4 linked regions of the Homo sapiens genome follow. The protein of the gene in region 3 purifies or fractionates together with the protein of the main gene of each other region. This does not show direct contact. Each region holds a gene or a part of one and is shown on either strand. Other genes may lie near its edges.

Region 1 (3,216 bases), on a different chromosome or scaffold from region 3:
CCCATCAACTCCCCGCTTTGTCTTCTTAGGCTGCTGTTGCAGCAGTTTATTTCTTCAAATTAACATGCTGTCGTTACCCATCAGGCTTTGCGGGATCCATTAAACCACTCCTGGCTCCCCCTCATCCTTTCCCTAGTGATACTGATATTCAGAAAAGGCCTTTTCTGACTAGGGAATCAGGTCCTCCACCCCCACGTTAAGGGAGTTGAGGATCAGATAACCTGCTGGTTACTCTGAATGGAGTTAAATCTTTTAAGAAGTCCTCCTGCCTTAAAATGGAAGCTGGATGAAATGACCCTTTTTTGTTCATAGTCCCTCTGGCCAAGTAAAATTGTAGCTGTACTAGTCCCTAGAAGGGACTGAGAAGTTCAGTGCATCTGCCCTTTGTTTCAGTTTAAAGGATCACTTTTTTCTTCTCTAATACCAGACTCCAATCAGGTCTTACTCCAGCTTTCTCCCACACTAAATGCTTGTATCTCTGTGCCATAGGGTGAAGATGTCCCCCTTACGGAGCAGACCGTGTCTCAGGTATGACTCTCCCTTCTTCCTTTCCAGATGGACTGGGTCACTAAAGAGGCTAGAACAGCATTCCACCCATACCTCTCAAATCTGAGTGAAACTAGAGACTCAAGACACATCTTCCTTGGCTCCCTCTTATTCCAGAGAACTGGGACTCATACAGCCAGCCACTCCCTACCCCTACTTCCAACTCCTTTCTCAGTTACCTGTGAGCAGTGGCTGTCAGCCTTGCTCTGTACCCTTCAAACCCTCCCTGCCTGCCTGATGCCTCATTCAGTGATTTATTCCCCAGCAGAGGCTTGCCTTAAGCAGATGGTCTGTGTGCATTTGTGCACACACACTCTCTTTCTCTTATTATTCAATTGAGGGCTAAGCTGGAAATGCATATTCTAGAATATGCAGGTTTTGCAGATCCATCTTGCTACCTTGACTGCAGATAGATTGTCTACCTGATGTAGGGGGAAGGGAGGGGTTCCGTTTTCTACCCACTTGGAATTCTCACCAAGAAGTCCATCTGGATTTGTTACCCGCCCCCTGCCCGCCGCCCCTTTTAACATATGTCCAGTAACTCCCTTTTTTTTTTTCTTTTATACCAGGTATACCTCTTCTCTCTTCATCCCCTCAGTGGGTTTGAATTTTTTTGGAATTTTCCAAACAATCTGCTAGGGCCTTAGAGAGCTTCTTCCCATCTCTTTACCCTTGGGGATTTTCTATTCTCCATTCTTCTAAGGACAGGGAAGACAAGTGAGGGGAAGGAGATCCCCAGCCCTCATCCTTACCCTGCCCTGTCAGCAAGCTTTCCTCAATGCTGCTCTTATCTCTGCAGGTGCTGCAGTCAGCCAAAGAACAGATCAAGTGGTCACTCCTTCGGTGAAGACCTCACTGTTCCTGGCTCTTCATCCTCTTCAAAAAATTTGCATGTCTGCTGTGAATTTTCATCTAGTTCCCCAATCGATGCTCTCAGGGTCATCTCGGGGATCACAGGGATCCTTAAATCTCCATTCTGTTTGTGGTTGCCCCCTCAACCTCCCCTACACCCTTCCTATTCTTTTTCATTCTTCTTGCAGTTCTGGGAGTAAAGCTCCCAGCATATTTAGATAATAGGGCAGGGGAAGCACCCTCTTTCTTTCTAGACTGGATTATGCTCACATGCTCCCTTGCCCTGACATTTTTGTAAATTCTGTGCCCTTTGCTGTAGCTACACTTCAGATTAAAGTAGGAGAAAGAATGTGCTGAGTGTTTTCCTCCCTTTGCCTCTACCTGGCCCTCATCCCAACAGCCCAGCAAGGGGAGAGAGAAAGAGAATTCTTTTCTATAGAACGAGTGGGGGCGGGGATGGGTAGGGATTTATCCAATCTAAGCCCTAACCCCACTTAGTGACCTCAGTGTTTTCTTCCATTCCTTCTTACTGCCCTGTCCTCTGCCTTGGAAGAGGCTTTGGGAATAGTTCATAGGGAAGGGACAACATGGAAGAAACAGCGATTTAAATTGTATTGAACAGGGCATATAAAATGCATTCTGTACCCTGATCTGGCATATAGCTTCAAAACTGCAGTGGCGAGTGTCCATCTCTTAGTTAGCTACCTTAACTGTCCACCCTTACTACCTGTGGGATCGTTGCCTGGTTTGTCTTCTCTGTGTCCTGGAGCAAAGCCAGTTCCTAAAACTAAAACTCCATTCTAGTCTTGGGAAGAAAAGTTTCTACTCAGAACTGGGGAAGGAGTGGAACTTATGACTTGGGCCTCTAGGCTGTCTCTGTCCCCTCAGCTCCCCGACATGCATTTACTCTCTGCCGTGGGTCTGCAGTCGCTGCAACCTACCCTCTCTCTGCCTCAGCCTTACACCCAAGCAGTAGGTCTGTGCTCTCCCTGTCTCTAGGTCGCTGAGAGAGGTGCTTTTCTTCATAAAACCTTTGGGGTTTGGATTTCCCCAGGAAGATGGAGAATGGAATACTCACTCTTGGGTCTAATCTTTCCCCTTGACCCAGAACTTCCTCCCCACAAAAATGCCTTTAAAAACCTTCCTGAGACTTAAGCATTCTGCCCCACTTACTAACTGCCAGTTCTCCAGCACTGAGGTGGGGCAGATAACGGGGCATATTTAAGGGGGCATCTTTGTGTAAAAGATGCATGGAGTCAGGAGAAAACCACCTTCATAAACTGCTCTGTGCAAAGAGGAATAAAACATTTTTTCCAAACTGCCTTTGTGTGATGTTTCTGTTTCTCTTCCTCTCTTTTTGGCAGCTACTCCTGTTCCTCCAGCCCCCCGTCATTCCCCATCTTATAATATTTCTTCCCTCCTACCTCAGAGACTCCTAGCAGTGCCCCCCCATCCCTAATTTACGGGGCTGTTTGCCTCCTTGGCATCTCTCCGTCCCCTCGCCTGGAAATTGGCGCCAGGGGTGGGGTGGGGATGGTATTTTCTCAGTGGGAGTCCCAGGGAACTGAGTTCTTCCCCCATCACCCCCAAAGCCAGCTGCCTGCTCCCGCCTCAGCCATTAGTAACCCAGAGACGCGCACCTGCGTGGGGGCTCTTCTCCAGCCCTTGCTCACTTCCTGCACCTCCCACTCCTGCTCTGAAACGGCGCTGAGCGGGTTATTTATCGGAGCCAGCGCTGCTCCAGAAGGTCAGGACGGTGGTGTAAATAACCTCTTCTCGCCATTTCCCCGTCCCTCCAGAGCCTGCTCCCCTCCCCCT
Region 2 (4,160 bases), on a different chromosome or scaffold from region 3:
ATAACCGTTTTAACCCAGGAGGCAGAGGAATGCAGTGAGCCAAGGTTATGACACCGCACTCCAGCCTGGGCGAGAGAGCGAGACTCCACCTCAAAAAAAAAAGATTCTGTTGGGCGTGGTGGCTCACGCCTGCAATCCCAGCACTTTGGGAGGCCGAGGCAAGCGGATCACGAGGTCAGGAGATCGAGACTATCCTGGCTAACATGGTGAAACCCCGTCTCTACTAAAAGTACAAAAAATTAGCCGGGCGTGGCAGCGGGCACCTGTAATCCCAGCTACTTGGGAGGCTGAGGCAGGAGAATGGCGTGAACCCGGGAGGCGGAGCTTGCAGTGAGCAGAGATCGTGCCACTGCACTCCAGCCTGGGCCACTGAGCGAGACTCCGTCTCAAAAAAAAAAAAAAAAAAAAAAAAAAAAAAAAAGGATTCTGACGGGGGGGCCAAGGGCGGTGGCTCACGGCTGTAATTCCAGCACTCCGGGAGACAGAGGTGAGTGGATCACTTGAGGTCACTAGTGTGAGACCAGCCTGGCCGACATGGTGAAACCCCTTTCTGCCAACTACATAAAAAAAAATTAGCCAGGTGTGGTGGCACATGCCTGCAATCCCAGCTACTAGGGAGACTGAGGCAGGAGAATTGTTTGAACCCTGAAGGCAGAGGTTGCAGTGAGCCGAGTTCATACCACTACACTCCAGCCTGGGCAACACAGCAAGACTCCGCCTCAAAAAAAAAAAAAAAAAAAAAAAAGATTCTGAAGGGGCCAGGCACAATGGCTCATGCCTGTAATCCCACCACTTCGGGAAGCGGAGGCCAGAAGATTGCTTGAGGCCAGTAGCTGCCTCCCAACATGGTGAGACCCCCGCCTCTCAACAAAAAAATTAAAAAAAAAAAAATTAGCTGCTGTAGTGGTGCACATCTGTAGTCCCAGCTACTCCGGAGGCTGAAGTGGGACGATCGCTTGAGCCCAGGAGTTCAAGCTGCAGTGAGCTATGACCACGTCACTGCACTTCAGCTTGAGCAACAGAGTGGGACCCTGTCTCAAAAATTTAAAAATAGCATAAATATTCCAAACGCAATTATATGGAATAAGTTGGAATGGAAGATAAAAAGCAGAAGCCAGAGAAAAAAAGTAAAGTCGTCTCCCATCGGAAAAATTTTGGAAACAACTTCTTTAAAAGATGAGAGAAAATGTTCCCTTGCTTGCAAAATTAATGTCCCACTCAAGTCACCAGTAGGAAATTCTGCTATCTTCTGTGCAACGATGATAGCTTTCCCTACGCTTATGAAAATCAATTCTGATTGCTAGAAAATATGGTGGAAAATAGAATCCCTCTGTACTGTCAGCTCGCAGAATTATCTGAAAGTGTTAAGTCAATTCCTGCTAGGGCACTCCGGATGACAGTTCTCTGCACCCTTCTGGATGACTCTTTAGAAACCATATTCCATCCCTAATTCTGGCTGTCTAGAATATATGAAACATTTAACTCAACATAAAATGATAATAGCCAACTTTCAAAGGTCAAAGGGGACCAGTTTATAACCTTCCCTCAACACGTGTTCAGTACAAACTTCCGGGTGCACTTACAATTGGCTGCGCAATTCAATGGATAAAAACGTTGCTTTATTTGTCTCTCATTTTCTGGCCCGTTCTTTTCCCACGTTTCTCAACCAGCGACTCCCCAAAACAAAAGCCTCCCACAGTAAACCGAGCACGCACATAAAAAGAGCTTCTCTGTGCGAGGATCAAGTTAGTGGTCCGCAAACATTAACCAAACAGAAGCACAAAGCAGGGGTGGGAAGGGGAGGAGCTGGATGCCAGGGTCAGGAAAGAAACAATCAGAAGGGTTTAGGAACATCCAAATCTCCTCAGCGGTTAAACCGACCCCAAACCACTTCTGGGAAACCACCGGTATCCACTGCTTTGGGGAACTCTGGATGCTCGTTATGCCAAACGCTCTCAAAGTAAGCAAATCCCCAACTGCCGTTCCCCTCCATGGGTAATTCTTAGGGTCTGGGAGGTGAGCTCGCCCGCCGAGGCAGAACTAAGCGAGTCGCCTGGAGAGGCGTGAAGGGAGCCTGCACGTGTCCCCCGCGGCTTCCCCACCGCCCCAAGAGCGGGGCATGTACGAGACCGCGCTGTGGGGTTCAGATTTAGGAAGGACGACCGCGTCGCCTGCCTCCCTCCCTCGCCCAGAGCCGGGAGCAATGCTGGGGCACGAAAGAGGACTTGGGAAGGATCCGGTCCTTACTTTCCCCGCGGGTCCCGGACCCGCAGCCCCCGGGTTGTGAGGCGGAAGCCAAAGGGGCGAACCCAGCGGAGCCGGCGTGCACAGACCCTGCCCCGCGGTCCAAGAGGGGTGCCTCCGGCCCGGGACAGCGGGGCTCCCGGAGCCCGAAAGCCCCACGAGCGGCGACAGCGGGGCCCGGCGCTGACGAACAGAGGAAGCGAGTACAACGGAGCCGCCGTCGGGAACATGCCCCCGAGGGCCCCGGAGCGCGCGGCCGCGAGGAGCGGCAAGCGGCGAGGGAGGCCCCAAGCCGGGGCGAGGTGGCTGTCCCCCCAGCCTGGCCCCGCACGGCCCCCCGAGGGTGGGAGTGGGAGGCTGTCCGGGAGGGGGAGTGTGGAAGGAGAAAAGGGCCAAGGGAAGGACTTACTTTCCCCGCGGGACCCGGCGCCAGCACAGCTCCTCCCGGGAGGTGTGAGTTTGAAGGACCAGAGGCGACTGGAGCGGAGGCGGCGGTGGCGGCGGCAGCAGCGGCGTCCTGCTCTGCCTACCTCCCCGCCGCCATCTTGACGCCCCTCCCCCAGCCCCCCCGCCCCGCCGGGAGGGGCGGGGGAGGGGCAACGGATGAGGCGCCGCGCGCACGCAGCGCCCTCACGTGACTTCCTCCCTCCTCCCCCACCCGCCTCTCTGCGCCCCTCTCCGCCCCGCCTCCCTCCTAGGTGAAGGAAGATGATTTCCCCCCCATCTTGACCACCCCCCAGTCTTCGCCGCCAAAAACGGACTCCGCCGGCTATCCTCGGCCCGGTACCAGTTGTTGGATCCAAGAGAATTCCGGAACCCAAACGGTCCATTACCGCGGCTCTGGGGTGGGCGAGGGGTGAGGGGGCCGGGTTTCCGCGAAGGGGGAGGGGGAAGGCGAAGGCCACCTAGGAGAGTCACGTGACTACTGTTTCCGCCGGCGCTCACGGAGAGCTCGCGGTAATTCCGTTTCCCCGCCCTTTTTTCCCCGCGGCCTGTCGGGAAGAAGGTCCGCGTGCCAGGGCTATCGGGAGGTCGGCCGGAGGGCCGCGCGCATGCGCCCCGCGCCTGCTTTCAAACTCCGGTTAGGAAGGGCCTGGAGCTATTTTCAGAACCTGTTAGGGTGGGGAGCTACGGCCCAGGAAGTTACCTAGCAGCGTTTCTGTCACTTGGAAGATCTCTTCATTACCTAGTTAGTCCTAGAAACAAAATGTTTACATATTCATTGCTTGTTAGGCTCGCTCAAAGCACTTTATTGGCAGTGAAACCGCAAGTAACCCGGAGCCCTCGGCGCGACCACGGCTAGAATCAGAGCCTAAGGCGTGTGAGCTCAGCCATCCCACGTCTGTCTTCACGCTCATACGCAAGCCCGACACACCGGGGCTCCCACTTAATGAATACTGAAGAGTAGGGCTGTCCCTACCGCTTCTCACTTCCTTGTTTTCATCTTTTCGTTATTATTAAGCGACCTAACACAATAAACATATTACCTTGTTGGTAACCCTTTTGTAAAGTCATTCTGAAAGTGCTGTTTGACTCCGTTGCTTGGGTAATAAGCACGCCTGGGTGATTCTTGCCCCCTACTGGCTGCGCATCCTACAAGCCTAGTGCTGAAAGCAAACCAAGTAGCTGGAACAGTTGGAGGTTACAGTGTGAACTCTTCCAGAGACAAAGTATTCGGGGAAAGAAAGGAAAAAGTAGGCACAGAAAGAATAGGAAACTTCAGTGTTTGTACACATAGATATGTATTATATATCTATGTATACATTTATAAATATTTTTAAAGTGCTAACTAATCGCTTTACTAATTACATTATTTCATTTAATCCTCTCACACACATAGAAAAAAAACCTATAAAGACAAAAATAAAAAATATTTTAGGCCGGGCGCAGTGGCTCACGCCTGTAATCCCAGCACT
Region 3 (3,500 bases):
TTTCATTTCACCTTCAGGATCCATCCAATATTCTCTAATATCAATTAGCACTTTGCCTTTAAAATCGCGAACACTAACGTACCTCATTTTCCCAATCTGCAAAAGAAACAAACATAAAAAGAGGTGCTCCTTTCAAGAGTGGTATCTGTTTCAATTGTATTCATATTCACAACTTGCTGCATGCTCACTCTACATCTAATCATGAAAATGACTACTGCTGACCCTTGAACAACATGGCTCTGAACTGTGCAGGTCCCACTTATATGCATATTTTTTTCAATAAATATACTGGAAAAATTTTTGCAGACTTGACAATTTGAAAAAACTCACAGAACAACTGCATAGCCTAGAAATAACGAAAACATTAAGAAAAAGTTAGGTATGTCATGAATGCATAAAACATACCTAGATATGAGGTTATTTTATCACTTACTATCATAAAACATACAAATCTATTATATGAAGTTAGAGAGAAATGTAAACAAAGATGGAGTATTAATTCATAACTGCATAAAATTAACTACAGTAGTGTACTAGTGTTAACTTCATAGCCACTTCCTGTTATCTCAGTGTACTCAAATGTTACAAGTATCTGCTTAAAACACCTTGTGTAAAACACCATGTGATGCTAATCATCTCTGCTGAGCAGTTCATGTCTCCAACAAATTGCGTATTGCAGTAAAAAGTGATCTCTCACGGTTTTCACATTATTTTTCATCATGATTACTGCAATACCATAAACTTTAAATAACACCATGAGTCCTATACAAAGTGCCCCTAGTGATGCTGAAAGTGCTCCCAAGAAGCAGAGAGAAGGCATGACATCACAAGAAAAAAACTGCCAGAAGCAGTGGTGCATGCCTATGATCCCAGCTACTCAGGAGGCTGAGGCCGGAGGATCACTTGAGCCCAGGAGCTTGAATCCAATCTGGGCAACACAGCAAGATCCTGTCTTTAATTTTAAAATGCAAAAAAATAAAAATAAAAATAAAAATAAAAAAGTTGAATTGCTTGATATGTACCACGGACTGAAATCTGCAGCTGTGGTTGCCTACAATTTCTAACAGATGACATATTTTATTAACAGATGACATATCTTATAAACAGACAACGTAAACTAATGTTATTGATAAACACCATACAGTACAGTAAAATGTAATTTTTCTCCCTTATGATTTTCTTAGTAATATTTTCTTTTCTCTAGCTTACTTTATTGTAAGAATACAGTATATAATACATATAACATACAAATATATGTTAACTGTTTATGTTACTGTTAAGGCTACCAGTCAACAGTAGGCTATACTTAGCAGTTTTGACAAAGTCAAAAGTTATAACCAGATTTTCAACTGCACAGGGGTTGGTGCCTTGCATTTTGACCCTGCATTGTTCAAGGGTCAACTGTACTACTCTCAGTATCAAAACTGCAACCAAAGGAAATTGCTGTTTAAACTATCATATGATCCAGCAATCCTACTTCTGAATATATATCCCAAAAAATTGAAAGCACAGACTCCAAGAGACATCTGCACACCCATGTTCATAGCAGCATTATTCACAAGAGCCAAGAAGTGGAAACAACACAAATATCCACCCAGAGATGAACTGATAAACAAAATGGGAGAGGGGGGGTGGAATAGACACACAATGGAATATCAATTAGCTTTTAAAAAAGGAAATCCTGTTACATACTACGTCAATGAAATAAGCCAGTCATAAAAAGGAAAAAGGTAATACTTTATGATTCCACTTACATGATGTCAAGTTCACAGGAACAAAAAGTAGAATGGTGGTTACCAGGGCTGGGAGAAGGGGAACTGTTGTTTAATGGCCACAGAGGTTCAGTTTTGCAAGATGAAACAGTTTCGGCAATCTGTTTCACAACAATGTGAATATACTTTTATGGTTTTTACCAGCAAAAAAAAAAATCATTAGGAAGCAATATTTTGCAGTACAAACTACAACCAAGAGGAATCCACAGATGCAACTAGCTACACTGCTTCACCAACCATTCTGAATATACGAATCCAGAGTTCCAGTCAATAACAACCAAGTTTTTCCTTTTCATGTTCACTTCAAATAACATCTTTAATGCACCTCACTCACAGTCAGATTGAGAACTTAAAAATATTCACAGAAAATTATTTTTCAAAAATCTTATATATCTGCTTACCACAAATTACAAATTCCAGAGAAAAGAACAGGCTTTCCTCAACAAAGTGTCTCTTAGCACTTTCCAAGACTCACTATAATATAGTAAGGGAAGACAATGCAGTACTGGAGTAAAGACAGACATAAGAGGTCAGTGGAACACAACGGAGTCAAAAAATACACACGCATTGGATATATTCACTGATTTTTTTGGGGGGAGGGGGTAAAATCCAAGGTAATTCAAAGGAATAAGAATACTCTTTTCAACAAATGGTGTTGAAACAACAGGCTATCTGCATTTGGGGTGGGGAAGACTCTAAATCTCTATCTTACATCATACACAGAGAAATTAATTCTACATGAATTATAGACCTAAATGTGAAAACTAAAACTATAAAACTTCTAGGAAAAAACACTGGCAAAAATTTTTGTGGCCATGGTAGGCAAAATACGTCTTGGACAGAAAATAAGCATTAAGCAAAAAAGGAGAAAAATCGATAGAATAGACAATCACACTAAAGCCTTTTTTAAAAAGATGCTTCAGAAAATAAAAAGGTAAACCAGAAACCTAAAGAAAATATTCACTCAAGTTGGAGCCACAGGGGTCTTGGCCTTCGAGGAGAGCCTGAGGAAGAAGCAGAACCGTGGACGTGAAGAAAATGATGAACTGACCAGAATCCGTGAGGACCTCATTTCCAAGAGAGAGAAGATCTGTCACAGACGCCCCTGACCAACTGCCAGTCCCCCCTTATTCTGTCTGTTTGATTCTCTCTGGTTTCATATTTTCCTCTCTGTTAACCTCCACTCATTTTTGAACTAGATTGCTTTGAAAACTAAAGTTTCCCTGAAGTCTAAAAAAAATATTAATTATACTTACATCTGACAAAATATATAAAGTGTTACAACTCAAATGACCTGGCATTTTAAGTGGCCAAAAGATACTCTTCACAAAAGATATAAAAATAACCAATAAACACACTAAAGATGTACAATGAATTAAGACATGTACATGAGGGAAATGGAAAGTAAAACCACCATGAGCTACCATTATACATTCAATGTAACTAAAAAGAAAAAAACTTAAAAGACTGACAATATCTAGCGAGGATGTGGAGCAACTGGAATCTCCTAAGTAGTACCGATGGCTGTGTAAAATGCTACAGCTACTATGGAAAATGGTTTGACAGTGTCTTATACAGTTACACATTTACCCTACGACTCAGCAAATGTATCTGGTATTTACCCAAAAGGGAAAAAATGTCCACAAAATGACTTGTACAAGAATATTCACAGCAGTTGTATTCCTAATAGCCCAAGACTTGATACAATCCCAATGTCCACCCAAGGTG
Region 4 (2,781 bases), on a different chromosome or scaffold from region 3:
AGCAGCACTTCGTATGGGTCTTATGGTGTTAAGATTTATGGGCTGGGTATGGTGACTCACGCCTGTAATCCCAGCACTTTCGGAGGCTGAGGCGGGCGGATCACGAGGTCAGGAATTCGAGACCAGCCTGACCAACATGGTGAAACCCTGTCTCTACTAAAAATACAAAAAATTAGCCAGGCGTGGTGCCTGTAATTCCAGCTACTCAGGAGGCTGAGGCAGGAGAATCGCTTGAACCCGGGAGGTGGAGGTTGCAGTGAGCTGAGATCGCGCCACTGCACTCCAGCCTGGGTGAGACTCCATCTCAAAAAAAAAAAAAAAAAAAGATTTATGACATTGTACGCAATGAAAAACACGAGAACTGAGAGAGCACATTTTACTGTGATATGCAACATACTAGAGAGACAAGCAGCTCCCGTGGAAATGATTAGCATTACGTGGTGTTTTAAGCAGGTACAATACTTGAGCTCACTGCAATAGCAATAAGAGGTGGCTGTGAAATTATGACAGTACAGTGTGTACTACAGTGAATTTTATGCAGTTAAGATTTAATGCTGTATCTTTTTGTTGATGTTTCTCTTGACTACAAATGGCACCATGTATGATCTGTATTTGTGTGTGTACATTTTGATAAATTTTAACTTTCTATAGATTTGTGTATATTTTATGGTAGTAATGATAAAAATAGACTAGTACCTACATATATTTTATGCATTCACAACATACCTTTTTCTTAGTTTTTTTAGTATTTCTAAGTTACACAGTTTGTGTTTTCAAGTTGTCACGAATTTCCAAAAAAGTTCTAATATATTAAATATTTATTAGAAAAAAACCCATGTATGAGTGGACCTGTGCAGCTCAAACTCATGTTAAGGGTCAACTGTATTTAGTCATTAAATATCTTTTTAAGACTTATTGAACTAAATGGTGTCAAAGATACAGACATGAATAAGACCCTTTCCTGGCCCCTTTCCTGGGAAGTGTACATTCTGGTTGGTGATTTCATGGCAAATCTTGCTTTCATTGTTTTTGTCATATTTTCACCTTCCTTTCAGGAACTCCTTTGTACTCTTTCCCTGTCTTGTGGTTTGTAGGGAAAGGATTTGAGAGTAGGATATTATTTAAACTCAATCTCTTAACCCCCACCCCAAATTCCAAAGGAGATGAGCAGGCATCAGATAACTTTTGGAGGGTCTTGAGAATCCCCTTTCTAGGGTGGTACTTCTACATTCCAGAATGTGGTATAGAGCCAGGAGTTGTTGAGATCAGAAGAAAGAAGTCATTCTTGTACCTCTCAGTTTTTCACAGCTTCAGTCATTACTTTAAAATCCTTTGAATTTCTAAGGTACCACACACTGTATTCAACACAACTGCAAAACTGTATCTCCAGGCTAAGCAATTGTTTGTTGGTGTTCTGTTTTGACTGGTCCAGAGGAGCCTTTGAGACTGTCCTCTCCTACTCTGCCGGCTGGGTGTCTAAGAGAGCTGATTGTCTTCCTCTCTAAGAGAGCTGATTTTCTTCCTTTTAGATGCTAAATTCTAGTTTTCATTTGCCCATTTCCTATTTCACCTTTTGAGTTTTAATTCTACTAGAGGAAGCACCAGGATTCTTGAGTCTTTATTTTGCTTAAACCTTGATAACTGTCCAAAGAAATGATTTTTCTTTGCTTTCTTGGGGCCTTTCCCTTTTACTTTGATAAGTCTTTCAAGGGGTTTGCAGTTCCCCCATAATCGTTTTGATAGGAGAAAGATTTTAAATTGGGAAGCTCACAGAGGCAAGAGGACAGCGTTTCTCAGAATTCCAGTTTGACCCTCCCCTACCCTTCTTCCTTGCCACAGGCCAAGGAGCGGGAGCTGGAACTGAAGAACACCTGGTCAGAGAACAAGCTCAGCCGCCGTCAGACCCAAGCCAAATATGGATTCTAGGGCTCTGGAACTGATTGCTCCCAGGATCTCCTGCCAGCCCAGCTGGCCTGGCCCCCAGCTTCACCTCTGGGACCCCAGCTGCTCTAAGCCCAGGATCTCTTTCCCCAAGGACCCAGCCCTCGCCTCTGCGAGAATGAACATATTTGATAGATTTTTCTTAACAAGTTAGAAAATTCAGCTCCTTTCTGTCCTGGAGCTAGCAAAGACTTGTGTGATGCCTCCGAAGGGGCTCTGAGTTCTGGGGTGGGAGTTTTGCTCTCTGTCAGGTGTGATAAAATGTTGAACCCTCCCCACCACCACTTTTTTTTTTTTAAACCAGGGATGTCTGTTGAAATAAAACATTCAGTCTGACAAACATTGCCTGCCCTGTCCCTGGATTTGTGTTTACCTTGTGTAAAGCACCTTCCAAATGATCTTGAGCTGCCTGATTGCTTTGCTATTTTTCCTCTCTATCCACCATCTAGCTGGGTTTGTGGCCATTGGAAACCCTAGAAATGGTATGCACAACTTTATATGAGGCAGGATGATTTTCAGAGAGGCCTGTGATCCCAAATATGTATTGCTAATCTCAGGTACCTCTGGAGACTGGGTGAAGTCAGGAGGTTTTTTCTGTAGTACAAAATAGTGTCAGGCATAAAAATCCTATCCAGCAGGAGGTAAAGTGGCAAAATCCCTGTCCCTGAAGATGATTCAGATTGACGCTGGTAGTCACTGGTCTGGATCAGTTTGGAAGCTTCACATTGAACTTGGGTGCTAGAGAGATACCCTTGGAGACTTCCAGAGCCCTAGCCTTCATTGAAGAAAGGAGGTACAGGGTCTGTAGACTCCAATTATCTGTAAGGCACTGTGACGCCC

What was found. Proteins that work in one complex are often made in the same cells at the same time.
Region 1: the proteins of SUB1 (region 3) and COPZ1 purify together in Homo sapiens (affinity purification with mass spectrometry, with the first as the bait; one large-scale study listed by BioGRID). This does not show direct contact.
Region 2: the proteins of SUB1 (region 3) and SBNO1 fractionate together in Homo sapiens (co-fractionation; one large-scale study listed by BioGRID). This does not show direct contact.
Region 4: the proteins of SUB1 (region 3) and PRCC purify together in Homo sapiens (affinity purification with mass spectrometry, with the first as the bait; one large-scale study listed by BioGRID). This does not show direct contact.

The regions. Positions count from the first base shown.
Region 1 is NC_000012.12:54,349,131-54,352,346, forward strand, and holds the end of COPZ1 (coatomer subunit zeta-1), read left to right. Parts: intron 1-489; coding exon 490-528; intron 529-1,345; coding exon 1,346-1,393; 3' UTR 1,394-2,716; downstream 2,717-3,216. UniProt on the Homo sapiens protein: The coatomer is a cytosolic protein complex that binds to dilysine motifs and reversibly associates with Golgi non-clathrin-coated vesicles, which further mediate biosynthetic protein transport from the ER, via the Golgi up to the trans Golgi network.
Region 2 is NC_000012.12:123,362,048-123,366,207, forward strand, and holds the start of SBNO1 (protein strawberry notch homolog 1), read right to left. Parts: upstream 2,801-4,160; 5' UTR 2,654-2,800; intron 1-2,653. UniProt on the Homo sapiens protein: Plays a crucial role in the regulation of neural stem cells (NSCs) proliferation. Enhances the phosphorylation of GSK3B through the PI3K-Akt signaling pathway, thereby upregulating the Wnt/beta-catenin signaling pathway and promoting the proliferation of NSCs.
Region 3 is NC_000005.10:32,595,557-32,599,056, reverse strand, and holds part of SUB1 (activated RNA polymerase II transcriptional coactivator p15), read right to left. Parts: intron 97-3,500; coding exon 1-96.
Region 4 is NC_000001.11:156,798,535-156,801,315, forward strand, and holds the end of PRCC (proline-rich protein PRCC), read left to right. Parts: intron 1-1,839; coding exon 1,840-1,926; 3' UTR 1,927-2,281; downstream 2,282-2,781. UniProt on the Homo sapiens protein: May regulate cell cycle progression through interaction with MAD2L2.